Homo sapiens: one gene and its partner. The protein of the gene in region 1 interacts with the protein of each later gene in a pairwise test. Each region holds a gene or a part of one and is shown on either strand. Other genes may lie near its edges.

The links. The genes of interacting proteins can lie anywhere in the genome.
Region 2: the proteins of FAM167A (region 1) and TXLNB interact in binary tests that used the Homo sapiens proteins (3 or more experiments, as listed by UniProt).

Annotation. Positions count from the first base shown.
Region 1 is NC_000008.11:11,442,754-11,450,680, reverse strand, and holds part of FAM167A (protein FAM167A), read left to right. Parts: intron 1-343; exon of another isoform or gene 344-681; intron 682-3,907; exon of another isoform or gene 3,908-4,278; intron 4,279-4,665; exon of another isoform or gene 4,666-5,534; intron 5,535-5,872; 5' UTR 5,873-6,269; coding exon 6,270-6,650; intron 6,651-7,927.
Region 2 is NC_000006.12:139,260,687-139,268,613, reverse strand, and holds part of TXLNB (beta-taxilin), read left to right. Parts: intron 1-5,840; coding exon 5,841-6,035; intron 6,036-7,927. UniProt on the Homo sapiens protein: Promotes motor nerve regeneration. May be involved in intracellular vesicle traffic.

The DNA of each region.
Region 1 (7,927 bases):
GAGAGCAGCATTGTGCTAAGTACTGGAGGGTCCAGCATAAAAGGCTTGGTTCTCGTCCTGAAGTTGAGAGTCTGCTAGAGGCGACCATTGACAAAGGCCCTGGGTGTAAGTGCTGTGGCTTAAGAGGGGCAGTAAGCCCAGTGGTTAGGGGCCAGCTCAGAGCTAGACTGCAGAGGTTCAAATCCCAGCTTCACCACTTATAAGCTCTGTGGCTTCAGGCAAGGTCCCGAACCTGTCTATGCCTCAGTCTCTTCATCTGTAAAATGGGGATGATGATACCCCAGATTCATAGGGCTGTTGTGAGGATTAAATGTGTTAATACATGTAAAGCTTTTAGCACCACAGCTCGTGTGGTGTGCTGTAAGCATTAGCTAATGTTGCGATGACATAATTGTTTCTCTGATGTGCTCGGGTTGTCCTGGGTACACACAGCCCAGCCTGGGCAAATCAAGCAAAACTTCCCCCAGGAGAAAATCCCTGAGAACTGAACTAAGGCACAGAAGGGAGTGAAGGGCTTTCCAGGCTGGAGGAAAGCTTGTGCCGAGTCAGGGGTGTGAAAGAGCATGGTGTCCGGCGGGACAGGAGTGCTGGGTCGGGGTTGGAAAGATTGTGTCTTATGGAGAAGAAACGAAAGGGTTCTAGTGGAGAATGCGAGGCTGGAAGGAACAGCAGGAGCGCGTGGTGAGAGGAGGTGTGGAGGGGATGGGTCAGCAGTGCCTGCGTCTTCCCCTGCCCTTGGGAGCCCATCGAGGAAGTGGATGTGACCGTTTTCCAGGTGAACAGATTAGGTCATAATGAGACAAGGTGTTGGCTGAGCTGCCCCCACCTGGCTCCTCCAGCAGCCAGAGGAGTTAGCTCATGGTTGGCGAAGGCTCCTCCAAGGAGCCGCTGTGGGCCTGGGAGCCAGGGAGCTTGTTGGAACAGCAGTCTCTGTGTGTGGCATGGGTCCTCGGCACTGGCACACAGAGCTGCAGAAAGGCTGACGCGCCCCCCCAAGGGCTTGTCCCCACTGCTGCTGGGTGGCCTGCCTGGCGGGGCGTGCCTGGGCCTGGTGGGATTACAGGGTCTGATGTCGTTTTTCTAGACACCCTAGGTCCCAGGTCTGGCAGCGTCCTTTGGCTTCCTTCTCCGGCCCCTCCACCCCTAGGAACGACCCAGGTTACATGTAAAGAAAGCCCGTTTGTTTAGAGTGTTGGGGGGCTCTTCCTCCCGGGGCCTGGGCCCCAGGAGTCCCTGGTTTGTCAAGCGAGGGGAGGCCTCCACTGCTTTTCCAGCCCAGGAAGCTGCCCAGTGCTGGCATCTGTTCCCCGGCACCCGGCCAGCACCTCTCTGCCGGCTCAGGCCGGGTCCAGCTCAGTGCCCAGTGAGCAGTGACAAGCTTTTCTGCTGTCACGTCCCTGCGCCTGTGTGGGTGACATTCCAGCTGAGCTCCTGTGCCTAGTGGGAGGGAAGAAACCCCTTTGGGCTTGTTCAGGCACCAGGGCACCCAGGGGGACAGTGCTCCCCAAACACTGACGACCAGGAAAACACATGCTGCTTGAGCAACTCCTCGCGGTCTGACTGTGCTGGGGGCAATCCCATTCCTGCAGCAGCTCCTCACCATCTGGCTGTGCTGGGGGCAATCCCGTTCCTGCCAGCTACGGGTGACCACCTGCTCTAAAATAGTGACTCCCCAACTCAGGCCTCTCCACATTGCACACACGCCTATTCAGGTGGGTACAGCTCTTTACAGTTTAAAGAGAGCTCTCACATACCAGGTTCCATAGATCCTCAGCCATTGCACAGATTAGGGAACTGAGGCCACGAGGAAAGGACTGAGCCTGGGTGCTCGGCTTGTCAGCAGTGCTGGGACCAGAAACCAGGCTTCTGGGGCCTGGCCTTGGTCTGCCATGCAGAGAGCACAGGGTGGAGTCTCTCCAACACCCCGAGCCGTGGGCGGGGCATTCACAATGTGAGCAGAGAGGGAAGGGAGCAGGCATGGAATGGTTTTAGTAAGTGGAGCTGTTCTCTCCCTTCTATGGCAGAACAGACTCCACTAAGTTTTGAGACCTGAAAATCTGGGGGAGGTGGGATCAACTGACTTCGTGTCGTTTGGTGTCCAGGGAAGGATGTGAGGGGGCAGGGATTGTCTTGGGCCACCCAGCAGGTCAGAGACCAACAGAGTGTCTGCTCAGTGCAGTTGGAGGGTCATGATCTGTCATGTGACGGTGATATAACTCTGATAGGTTATGTCATCTTAATAATGACATTTTAAAAACCATGACTAAGGCTACATGACTATGTCTAGGGCTTCCTGTAGACCAGGCAGTGTGCTGAGAGCTCACATTTGTAACCTTATTGAATCCCTGATTAGGACTTACGAGGTAGATGTTATTATCCCCAGAACTAGCCTCATGGCTGTGGGCAGTGGCACAGGGCCCCTCGTGTGGGTTCATGCTCTGCTGTCCCTGTCTTGAAATTCTTAGAACTTTTTTTTTTTTTTTTTTTAAGACAGAGTCTCGCCCTGTCGCCCAGGCTGGAATGCAGTAGTGCGATCTTGGCTCACTGCAACCTCTGCCTCCTGGTTTCAAGCGATTCTCCTGCCCCAGTCTCCCAAGTAGCTGGGATTACAGGCGTGCGCCACTACGCCCAGCTAATTTTTGTATTTTTAGTAGAGACGGGGTTTCACTATGTTGGTCAGGCTGGTCTTGAACTCTTGACCTCGTGATCCACCCGCCTCGGCCTCCCAAAGTGCTGGGATTACAGATATGAGCCACGGCGCCCGGCCAATTCTTAGAACTTTTTAAACAAGGAGCCCCGCATCTTCGTTTCATACTGAGCCTTGTGAATTATGTAGTCGTTCCGGTTGTTCTCATTTCTCAGAAGAGGACACAGAGGCCCAGAGTGGTCATGAAGCAATGTGCCAGCGTCACAAAGCCAATGGCTGCCCTGGAGCTCTAACCCAGAGCCCACACTCTCCAGAGTAGAAAGAGGCTGAGACAGAGTCAAATGACTGTGCCCAGGTCCAGCTGCTGGCACCTGCCTGTGACCAGGAGGTGAGGCACTTCACCTGCCCTAGCCTCGATTTCTCCTTGGTGAAATGGGGTGATCCCGCCTGCCTCTGGGGGCTACTTTGGGGCTCACATGGGCAGATGTGCACACTGTGTTTTCTGCACTTCACCAAGCTCAGCAGATCTGAGGACCATCACTAGCTGGTCACAGTTCACAGGGGCTAATGCCCGTGCCACCAGATGGTCCTGACATGGTCTATGCAGGCCTTCACCTGAGGTCAGCAGTTCCAGACCAGCCTGGCCAAGGTGGTGAAACCTTGTCTCTACTAAAAATACAAAAAATTAGCTGGGTATGGTGGCAGCTGCCTGTAACCCCAGCTACTCGGGAGGCTGAGGCAGGAGAATCGCTTGAACCCAAGAGGTGGAGGTGGCAGTGAGCCAAGATCACGCCATTGCACTCCAGCCTGGGTGACAAGAGTGAAAACTCCGTCTCAAAAAAAAGAAAAAGAAAAGAAACCAATAATTGAAATAAATTGTCTGCAATACAGTTACAGACTTGTAGCAGTTTCCTACCCTGAGAGGAGCCCCTCACCCAGCAGTGGTAGCCCAGTGGGATGCCCTCACCTCTGCAGTGGGAGCCTGCTGGTGGGGGAGGGGGTGGGCCACCAGGGCTCCTCATCCATGTTATCTCCTCACAGAACTCAGGGCGGGAGGGTGCTGCTCATCCGCCTGCAGTTGAATCCTCTCCAGGAAGCTTTGATGGATCTAATCAGAGCTCCCCTGCCAGGGAGAAGGAAGCCCTGTAGGTGCAGCTGCCCCAGACATGCTCAAAACAGATCCTGGCACCTCAGCAAAGAGGCAGACGGCGCCTGGGAGGGGCCCCAGAAAGCAGCTGATAAGTCTTTAGATTTGGACAGATTCTGACCGTGAAACTGCACAGGAGACTCCCATGAGTACATTTCGCATTTGCGGACTTAGCGTGCTAAGTCTTCAGAGAGTGCCGGTGAATTTTAGTTCTGCCAATCTGCTAGAACATAGGAGGTTGGTATTTATCACTCCCATTTTACAGATGAAGAAAATGAGACTTAGCAAGCCTGACAAGACGTAGAGCTAGGCCATCTGATCCCAACTCTAGTGTCTGCATCTGGAGACAGTGGTTCTCCACCCCGGCTGCACACTCGGATCATCGGGGGAGCTGAACACTGCTGTCTAAGTCCCATCTCTCGACCAATTGAATCAGAATCCAGTTCCTCAGGGGGATTCTCGCTTGCTCCAAGCAGAGCTGGAGGTGACAGCGGGTTTCTCTGCTTACCAGTTGGGGTGGACTATTCCTTCTCATTCTCCATGGATGCCCCTTGCTAGGGCAGGCTCGTAGCCTAGGGCGGCAGAGGTCGGGCAGCAGGACGTCCTCCATTCACATCCCCACCACAGGCTGGGGCTGAGGAAAACGTCTGGACTGGAAAGTTCTGCTCTCCTTTCTTAAGCGTCTGCGTGCCATGTCGGAGAGGAATCCCAGGACACCGCGAGGTGGTCCTGCTGCCTGTTCAGCTTTTGCCACCCTCATCTTAATTCTTTTCCCTCCTATCCTCACCTCCCTTCTGCCCAGTTCCCCTCACTCCAAACAAGTAATCATGACTATGGCTATTCCCTTCCTTTTTTTTTTTTTTTTTTTTTGGCCGGGATGTTTTTAGGCATTTACAAGTCAGTAACAATCCCTCTTTCTTTCTCCTTTTTCACCCCAAGGGTGGCCTACTCTCCAGGCTGCTGAGAATCTTGCTTTTCTTCATTTAAGCTTTATCTCAAACATCATTCCATATCAATTCATTCTTTTTTATAGCTGCATGTCCCCCAGCACAGATTTTTTTTTTTAAAACACACCCTTAAAATCCAGGGCTTACCACCTGGGTCCAAATCAGATGTCTCCTACTCTGATTCACCCATGTCCACTGCCCACCCCATGGACCTCGGACCACAGAGTCTGGAGGCTGCGGTCTCTTCTTACTGGGAGTTAGATTTCTACCCTGTGTCTGATGTTATGGGGTAGGAGCTGGGGCTTATGCCTCCTCTCTGGAGATGGGGAGGCCACATCAGATCCCATAGCTGAAGTCTTTACCAAACAGGTGCTGCCATGCGGGCACTTAGGTGAACACGAGAAGCCTCGTTCTAGAACAATGAGTCACAGCCTGCTTGTTTAGCCATCCAGCCCAGGTGCCACCGCCTTCTTCCCTCCACAGCTGCAGGTTTATTTGCTTCTGTCTCTGAAGAGGTGAGGTAAGGTGTTGTTCTTGGAGGAAGAAGCTAGGAGCGTAGAGTAAGACCTGGATGTAGAAACGGCTGCTGGAGGACAGGACCTGTGGTGGGTGGAGGTGGTGAGGGGGCAGTGGCACCTGGACGGAGCAGACCCACCTTAGCCTGTGTGGGGTGCGGTTTCCCTGCTGGCTGGCTCTGGGGACCCCCCGGCTGTTGCCACAGAGAGGAAAGACCTGTGGCCTCAGATTCAGACAGCCTGAGCTTGTCCCCACAACTTATTGCTGGGAGATCTCGGTGAGTCATTTAACTTCTAGGATATGTGGGTTCCTCGTGTGTGAAATGAGAATAAAAACAAATCCCTGCAGACTTGCTGGGGGCATTAAATAAGATAGTAGAGGCGGAGTCGTTTTTATATAAATGGTAAAACACTGCACAATTTTTCAATTGCTCATTAACTTCTCTGCATTGAATTAAGGCATTAAAATGATCTCACTTCCGTCCCGGACTAGCCATGAGAAGCGCAGCCACCAGTCCACTCTGAGCCTCAGTTTCCCCTCCTGTGGAGTGGACGTGCCCGCCTCTGAGTGGCAGGGCAGGGATCGGGACTGATGCGGTTCTCATCCCTCCCACAGGGTCTCCAGCCACCTGCCCTTCCCGAGAAGAGAGAGCTCTGGGCCTTCTTCCTGCCAGTCTGGTCTTCGAGTGCGTTCAGGACAGATAGACCTTGGCACAGGCTGCCCCGAGATTCCTGCGACGCTGTCTGTTCCTGCCTTCTGTGGAGCATGGCACCCACAGGCTTCCAGGACGGATCATAGACCCGAGCCTCCAGGAGGGCGCCCTGTGCGGCTCACTGCGCGGTCCCTCTCAGCTCCCCTGCCACCCAGCCTCTGAGGCCGGCTCCTGTCCCGGAAATGCCCTCGGGCACCTGGATGAGGCCATCCCAGAGCGGGACCCAACTGTGCCACCCACCAAGCCTCCCCCTGCGCCCCCCGTGCCCTCGCATGTCCGGCTGCCAGGGCAGACTGTAGAATGTCTGTGCCCCAGATCCACGTGGAAGAAGTGGGTGCAGAAGAGGGGGCGGGAGCAGCCGCACCACCCGATGACCACCTCCGGAGCCTGAAGGCCCTCACCGAGAAACTGAGGCTGGAGACCCGCAGGCCCTCCTACCTGGAATGGCAGGCCAGGCTGGAGGAGCATACCTGGCCCTTCCCGAGGCCGGCTGCGGAGCCACAGGCGAGCTTGGAGGAGGGGGAGCGTGGGGGGCAGGAGCCCTTGCTCCCCCTGAGAGAGGCTGGGCAGCACCCCCCTTCTGCCAGGAGTGCCAGCCAAGGTGCCAGACCCCTGTCCACTGGCAAGCTGGAAGGCTTTCAGAGCATCGATGAAGCTATAGCCTGGCTCAGGAAGGAACTGGTGAGTGGCTGCCCCCAAGAATCCCCAGAAAAGAGGAGATGCCACCGTCTCTCTGTGTCTTTTTCTGTCTCTCTCTGTCTGTCTCCCCACCCCCACCATGTATTTCTTCCCCTCTCTCTAACCCCCAAGTGCACATCTGTAATCTTCCCGTGAGTTGAAGGCAGGCGTCATTTGTATGTGGCTGGGGGGACCCAGGTGTCATCAGCCCCTAATTGCAGACACTAATGAAGGAAGCAGGTGTTTTCTGGCAGAACCTGAACCCATGTTAAGGTGTACCCCCCTCCCCCCAACACCGCTCCCAGTACTGGAGTCTGGCTCCTGGGGTGTGACTGCCCCTCCCTCTGTGCTGGAACCTCCCCACCCTGCTGTCCACCCCAGCTGCCTGCCACTCCGGGGACCACTCTTCTGCACGTGAGCGGCCTCTTCTTGTGCTGGGCGCTGGCCGGGTGGCTCCATGGGGCACAGTGGCTGGGGTGTGGCTGTGCAGGGCGCTGCTGTGAGGAGCTGGCTCGGTGTGGAATGTGCTCGAGTGGTGAGGAGTTGTGGAGCTGCCCAGAGTCGGCGGGATGGGTCCTGCCTGGGGAGAAGCTCGGTGAGGAGGCTCAGAGGAGGAGTTGGCTCAGAAGTCAGGGCGGGGCCAGGTGTGAGGTAAAGGCACATTGTGTTTGAGCTGGGACCGCAGCGCGGTCACTTTCCTGCTCATAGGCAAAGCAGATTCCCAATAGGAGCATCTTTTGTGCATGGTGACTCAGCCTGAGAACAGGGTGGGGGGGCAGAGCTGGGTGCCCTGTCCCCTTCCACCCCCCCAGGGGAGAATCACCCGTGTCTGGCACGACAGCCTCTCAGCAGCACCAGGCATGAAGCTAACCCTACCCCAGCTCTCAACCCCTGCCCCACCCCGTCCCTGAGGCCCAGGTGACACCTGCGAGTCAGGCCACTCTGGCCACAGGTGAGCCAGCCATCAAGGGCAGCTGCCTTCCAGAGCCGGCAGTGGCTCTTGGGTCAGCTGGGTAGGCTGAGGCCTGCTTGGTTTGTTTTGCAGAATCCCGAAAACTAAATCCCCATGAGGCCTGGAATGCCTCAGGGGCTGAGAGAATCCACTGGGGTTTGGAGTGGGGCAGGGCTCAGGGACGCAGGGATCTGACTGATTAATTGGAAGCCTGTTTGCGTTTTAACACTTGATACCGAGAGTGCTTCTCAGAACACACCATTCTATTATATCCGTCTTTAGTAACGAGAGGGTGCATGTGCTGTCGGCTTCGGAGAAGATGAGGCAC
Region 2 (7,927 bases), on another chromosome or scaffold:
ATCAAGCATATTTAAATGTCAAAATCAATATTTGAAATTTGAATTCAAATTCAAAATATTTTCAAATTTTCTTTCTAATTTTTTCTTTGACCCAGGGATTATTTAGAAGTGTTATTTAATTTTTATAGCCGATCATACATGGTCTTATCTTGATACCATATGTACTTCAAAACAATGTTTTTCAGATGTTGGGTGTAGTGTTCTATAAGTAACAATTAGCTTTAAATCATTTATGCCTTTTTTGAATTTTTTTATCAATTGCTGAGAAATGAGAGTTAAAAATCTCTTCATATAATTGTGGAATTGTCCGCTTATTTTAATTATGTCAATTTCTGCTTTATGTACTTTGAAGCATTAATATTAGGTGTATATACATTTATGATTATTATGTCCTCTTGATGAATTGGTGATTTTACCTTTATGAAATGTCCCTTAGTAATCTTTTTTTTTTTTTTTTTTTTTGTGAGATGGAGTCTCGCTCTGTCGTCCAGGCTGGAGTGCGGTGGTGCAATCTCGGCTCACTGCAACCTCCGCCTCCCGGGTTCAAGCAATTCTCTGCCTTAGCCTCCTGAGTAGCTGAAATTACAGGCACCCGCCACCATGCCTGGCTAATTTTTGTATTTTTAGTAGAGACGGGGTTTCACCATCTTGGCCAGGTTGGCCTTGAACTCCTGAGCTTGTGATCTACCCGCCTCGGCCTCCCAAAGTGTTGGGATTACAGGTGTGAGCCACCACGCCCGACCAGTAATAATCTTTGTCTGGATGTCTACATTATCTGATATCAATTTAGCCACTCTAGTTTTCTTACTCTTATTGTTTGCCTGGTGTATCTCTTTTCATCCATTCATTTTCAGCCTGGGTCTTTATATTTAAAGTGCATTCTTTCAAGATAGCATATAGCTGGATCTTACTTCTTTTCATTCCTACAGTATCTGCCCTTTAATTGCAGTACTAGTCCATTAACATATAATGTACTTACTGATGTGGTTTGATATATGTCTACCATTTTATTATTTATTATTTGTCACCTCTGCTTTGTTTATCTTGTTCTTTTCCTGCCTTCCTTTGGATTATTTGAATATTTAAAAATTACATTTCATCTCTTGTATTTTGAAATTATAACACTACACATTATCTTTAGTAGTTGCTCTGTGATTACAATATACATTCTTAATTTTTCATAGTCTTCCTGGAGTTAATGTTGTATTACTTCACATAACATGTAGAAACACTGCAACTAAATAGATCAATTTACTCCCTCAGCCTTTAAGCTATCATCATTATATGTATTATATTTATATACTTTTGTAAAGCCGATGAGACATTGTTATAATTTTTACTTTAAACAATAATATGTATTTCTTCTTAAATTAAAGGCAAAACTATATCCCTTTTATCTACCCAGATGTTTACCATTCCTGATACTTCTTATTCATTCTGTAGCTTCACATTTCTGTCTGATGTCATTTCCCTCAGCCTGAAGTACTTCTTTTAGTATTTCTTATAGTACAAATCTGCTGGTAATCAATTCTCTTAGTTGCCTTTTATCTTTAAAACATCTTTATTTTTTTTTTAATTGAAGGCTAAATTCATTGGATATAGAATTCTGCATTGAGAGAACCTATTCGTGGGTTTTTTTTTTTTTTTTCCTTTTAGCCTTAAATAAATGTGCCACTATACTGGCTTTTAAAATTTCTCATGAAAATCAACAATCATTTGAATTATTGTTCCCCCATATGTGATATGTCCTTTTTCTCTGCCCTTTTCAAGGTCTTTGTATTGATCTTTCGTTTTCAGAACTTTTACTGCTTTAAGGCCAGGAGTGGTTTTTTTCACATGTACCCTACTTGGTATTTGCTAAGCTTTTTTGTATCTGTAATTATATGTCTTTTACCAAATTTGAATTTCTTTCAGCCATTATTTCTTCAAATAGTTTTTCTGCTCCACTTTCTCTCCATCTTCTTCCCTTCTAAGATTCTAACTCTGTGTGTGTAGACCTTTTGATATTGTCCCACAGGTCTTCGAGTCAGTCTTCACATTCTTCACCAATACTTTTTCTCTTTTATTTTTAGATTATCTTATTTTGATTGGTCTATCTTCACATTCAGTGATTCTTTTCTCTCTCATTTTCATTCTGCTCTAAATCCATCCAGTGATGGTTGTGTTTCAGATTTTGCGATTTTTAATTTCAGAATTTCCATTTGGTTCTTTTTTTGTATGTAACCTCTCACCTGAGATTTTCTACCTTCTCATTCATTGAGATAATATTTTCCTTTACATCATTGACCATAGTTATAATACCTGTTTTAAAATACTTGTCTGCTAATTCCACATTTGCAGCATTGTAGAAAAAGCCTTCTCTAATTGTCTTTTCTTTTGAGAATAGGCCATATTTTCTTGGTTCTTCATATGTCAAGCCATTGTCTATTGGATCCTGGATATTGTGACTATTATGTTCTGGAGAATCTGGATTCTACTATATGATGAATAGTTTTTATTTTTTTAAGCAGACAATTAATTTGGTTAGATTCAAACCATAAACTTTGTCTCTTGAGCAGCAGCTGAAATCTCAGTTCAGTTCTTTTCTACTTAGCTAGACTGCTTTGCACATGTGTGGCTCAAGGCCAATCAGATTTGTGTAAAGTTCATTCACAGGATCTGGGCTCTATTTCTCTGACTCTCTCTTTTTTTGGGTGATCTTCCCCTCACTGTTGAGGGACTATAGTTGTCCAGAACTCTGTATTCTTATTCTTCTAATATGAAAGATGGTATGTTTTATATGAGAATTTTGCCCACCTCATACTCCTGCCAACTGCAGATTTCCCTCAAGCTAAAAGCTATAAAGAATAGGAAACTCATGTACAAGTGCCAACTTCCCTCTAGAGTCTGTCTGATTTTGTTTACTCTCTAGTGTCATCATTGTTTCTTGCATTTCATCCAGAGTTTACAGTTGTTATTTGCAAAAGGGTCAACTTGATATGAGCTTCCTTGGCCACACTAGTGAAACACCTTAAGTGTACCTAAATCTAAAATCCATGCGCTGGGAGCTTGGGAAGATATAGAAAGACAATGTATAACTAGGTATTTCCGCCATCACAAATTTTAGCTTTTACTTTTCTTTATTAAAACCGCTTCTTTAATGAGTCAAACGCACACACACACACACAGACACACACACACACACACATACAACCTCACAATTTAGGATAACTTAAGAAAGGATTGATAAAAGTCTGAGACATGGGTTTGTTTCAACAAAATCATACATATATTCAAAGTGATAAATCTGAGCCTCAAACTATGCTGAAAAAGAACTGCCTAGTAAGAGAGGGGTAAGTGTCTCAGGGAGCATGATTTTCCTAAAGAAATGAGAAGCATTTGTTGTCAGAATATCACAGAATTTTAATGTGGAAAGGACTGTAGGAATGATCTAGTCCAAGCTACTCATATGTCTGTACATAAATTAATAATTCACTGATTCATTAAATAAACATTTACTGAATACCTTTGGATTATGTGCCAGGCACAGCACCAGTTGTAAGATGCACAATGATGCTTGCAAGGTTTTTTTGTTATCTCAGACTTCATCCCTCAATTTTATTGACATTATTTTGACTTTGAATAATGTATTTGATAAAGAAAAGATAATTTTATCTCAGACACTGTCCAAATGATTGAAAATCCTTCTAACAATGGACTCAAATTTTATAAGATTTTGCTAGATTTCTTTTGGTCTCATTGAAAAACAATATAGGCCGGGGGCAGTGGCTCAACCCCCATAATCCCAGCACTTTGGGCGGCCAAGGTGGGCAGATCATCTGAGGTCTGGAGTTTGAGACCAGCCTCGCCAACATGGTGAAACCCCGTCTCTACTAAAAATAAAAAAATTAGCTGAGCTTGGTGATGCGTGCCTGTAATCCCAGCTACTCAGGGGGCTGAGGCAGGAGAATCACTTGAACTCGGGTGTTGGAGGTTGCAGTGAGCCGAGATCATGCCACTGCACTCCAGCCTGGGCGACAGAGTGAGACTTCATCTCAAAACAAAACAAAACAAAACAAAACAAAACAAAAAATATATATATATGCAAGATTACATCTTTTGGGCCAGGATTGGCGGTTATGATTGTTTGTTTGACATTTATTTAGTGCCATCCTATCATCTGTACCTTCTTTCTATAGCCAGTTCCCAATTAAAAAAAAAACAACAACTCAGACTTGCATGGGGTGTTTCATTTATTCATTCATGGAATATTTATAAATACAAACGGTATTCAAATCATGGTCTGTAGTTCTGATTCCAAACTTGCTGACTTCTAAGCTAATCAGGACCAGTGAGGAAACAATCATAATCACACATATATTTAGTTGCTCCTAACTGGTAACCATAATTATTTTTAGCGAAACACATATAGTAAGTGTTAGTATACAAAGTTCAGGGAAATAACATCTCGGATAGTTTATTTCTTCAGTTTAAGAAGTACAGATATCTTCAATACCCCTGAGAAGTTGTTGCTTAATAAAGGTTTATAACATGAATAAATTATGATTCTGACATCAGGAGTCACATTAGAGTTGGGAAATGTGTTGTTATTATAGAGGAAAGAAGAAACCTAATGATAAAATATTTTCAGAGCATATATTCTCAGCATCAGTTTTTATTTGGATCACATTATTCTGTTATGATAAAGGTCTGTACAATTACTTCTGTTAAAAATTATTATTTCTTTTAAAAAATCCTGTTACATAATTTGAACTTGGTAGGCAATCAAATTCAGTATAATTTTACTTGCCAACAACGAAGCAAGCTTTCATATTAACAATTAATCAGAACTGAAAGGAATCCTAAAATGTCTGTATCATTTGTCAGCCACGTAAATGTCTCTATCTTTGGTAGGATGTAGCAAAATTAAACCCTTTTATTCAAAAAGAATAACAATCGCAAAGCAATTCTCAATATAGATATGGAGGAAATTGGAGCTCATTGTTAGTGGCTAGCAATGAATGGAGAGTTTTGATTTAGGAGAAAAGAGAACAGAAATGATATAAAAGTTAATTTGCAATTCTTCAATGTTAACAAAGCGGAAGAAGGAAAATTAGATGTTTCACTTTAGAGTTAAAGAAGATTTGAAACTTAATATTGCTTTCAGATTCAAAATTTACATTGAACATTTTAATTACCCTATGTGACACATTTAATGATTGTTCTTTCAAAAACAAAATAATATCCAGCATGTTTGGAAAGATTCCCTTTTATATTCTTGAATGGCTGTAATTGAGCTATGCTGTCTTAGTTTCCTTTTTTAAAGCTTTTTGATGAAAGTTTTTTCTCACAAATAGAAAATTTTTATTGTGATCACTTATATTTACAAAACTTGGTAATATAATTATGTGGTTAATATGCCATGGTTTTTACAGGGAAATATAAGATCTATTGTTCTCCCTTTACCAAACCAGAGAAACACATGATCTGTCTCATCCATCAGTAAACTCAAGTGGCCTTTTTTTCAGGCCACAGCCAAGAGATCAAAATCGTGTGACTGTGTGTTTGTTAGAAATCGCTGCAGTTCATTCACTCAGCAAGAGACGCATCATCTTTAAAACAAGTCTATTCATCACTGACTACAAATTCAAGGCCTTCACAGCACCTGTTCTGAGTAACTATGTACTCACAGCTGAAACCTTTACTCATACATTTATTTTGGGGCTGAGCAGCTTTAGCTCTAGAGAACTGAGAAAAAACATCCCACCTACTCTGCACACTTATCTCCTTTAGGTGACCTAATGCTGAGTTCTATAAACCCGGGGTGCATTTAAACAAAATGTTTTGCTTTTTATCCGCAGGAAGAGGCGCTTCAGCGGGCACGTGAGGAAGAAGAGAAAAGGAAGGAAATCACAAGCCATTTCCAGAGTACCCTCACGGACATCCAGGGCCAGATCGAGCAGCAGAGTGAGCGAAATATGAAGCTCTGTCAGGAGAACACAGAGCTTGCAGAAAAGCTGAAAAGCATCATCGATCAGTATGAGCTCAGAGAGGAGGTGAGAACCACATCAAACAACTTAGAACAGTACATAGATCCGGATCTGGGAGCTAAAGGTGGGAACTTGGTTAATAAGACAGTTACAGCCAGCCCTCTCAACTGATTAATATTTAGGATTGGATTTCCTTGACGAGCCAAAATGAAGACAGATGGTCTTACAAAATACCTGACTGAAAGTCATATGGGATTTCTTCAAAACTGGCATCACTACAAAGTAAAGGCAATAAATAGAAAGTGATAGGCTGTGGGCACAGTTTTCCTTGAAAATAATATTTCTCAGCCTTTTAAAAATCCTCTCTCTATAGCCAAAAATAACTCACGCACTCCCTCTTAAGAATTGCCATGTCATCTAAATTAAGAGTCTGTATTCTGGCCAGGCGCGGTGGCTCACGCCTGTAATCCCAGCACTTTGGGAGGCCAAGGCAGGTGGATTAAGAGGTCAGGAGTTCGAGAGCAGCCTGGCCAACATAGTGAAATCCCGTCTCTACTACAAATACAAAAAAAAATTAGCCAGGCGTGGTGGTGGGCGCCTGTAATCCCAGCTACTCGAGAGGCTGAGGCAGGAGAATCTCTTGAACCCAGGAGGTGGAGGTTGCAGTGAGCTGAGATCACGCCACTGCACTCCAGCCCAGGCGACAGTGTGAGACTCCGTCTCAAAAAAAAAAAAAAAAAAAAGAGTCTGTATTCTATGTACCCTACCAGGCCAATAATAGTATTAATAATGTAATCATTGTAATAATAATGATATCATTTATTCAGTGGTTAGTTTGTATCAGGCAATGTGCTAAGTGCTGTACTTTACATACCATATGGCATTTAATTGTCTCAACAATCTTATGCATTAGATAATAATATATTATCCATATCTTATAGATGAGAAGCAGAAGCTAAGAGATTAAACCACTTACCCACAGTCACAAGAGGCAAAAGCCTTTTACTTTGAATAGGTTATATTAGGGGGATGATCAAGGTCTTTTGTTATACCCAAATTATATTTTAATATTTAATATATTTTTAAGATTCCAGATACCCTCTCAGGATTTTGACACATCATATTCCTTTCCCTATCCCACCCAAATTTTAAATCTCTGCTTTAAAATGTAACATAACATAGTCAAAGCGGCTCTGTTGGTAACATGCTAAGATTTTATCAAGCACAAAACTGAGCCAACAGCATATGGTCGCGGTGGTTAGGTAAATCAAGAAACTCCTAATAGTAAGCCAAAATGCCATGCTACCATTTTATCTTGTCATAAGGATCAATCCCGCTCCAGAATGGAGGTTCAGACTAAAGAAGATAGGAAGGAGTGAAAGGAAAATGTCCATATTCTTCAGAGAGATCTCAGATGGGAATGGGCTGCTATGCTAGTTGTATATTCCTGGGACTGGTTCTAAGTAAAGCCCAAGGGGAGAATTCCATGTCCTGTTTCTGATTGGACCTCCCAGTGACCAGGAATTTATCCATCCTGAGGTAGAGTTGGAAGTTTCTCTTGACCAAACTAGTCCAGAGGTCAAAAGGTGTGGCGAGCTCTGCACATTTGCGACTCAATTTCTCTATGACCCTTGGCCTTGTCATCTCCACCAGAGCAACAGAGTAGAATTCAGGGGGGCTCAGGCCTCACTCCCAGACCTCGGACCACATGCTGGCACCCCAAGGCTTTCTCACAACGCCAGAGGCAAGAATGCAGAGAATTCATCATGATAAATTGCACAAGTGTTGCAATTAAAAGTGGTTTTATATTCACAGAAAGAGCCAAAATACCAAATGATACAACTGTAGCCCCTGTATATTGTATACTGATACATCATTGTCTGTGCTGTCTAGCATAATAAATAGCATCATATCTAATAGTTACCAAACGTAGAAAAATATTGTATGGATCTTTTGGC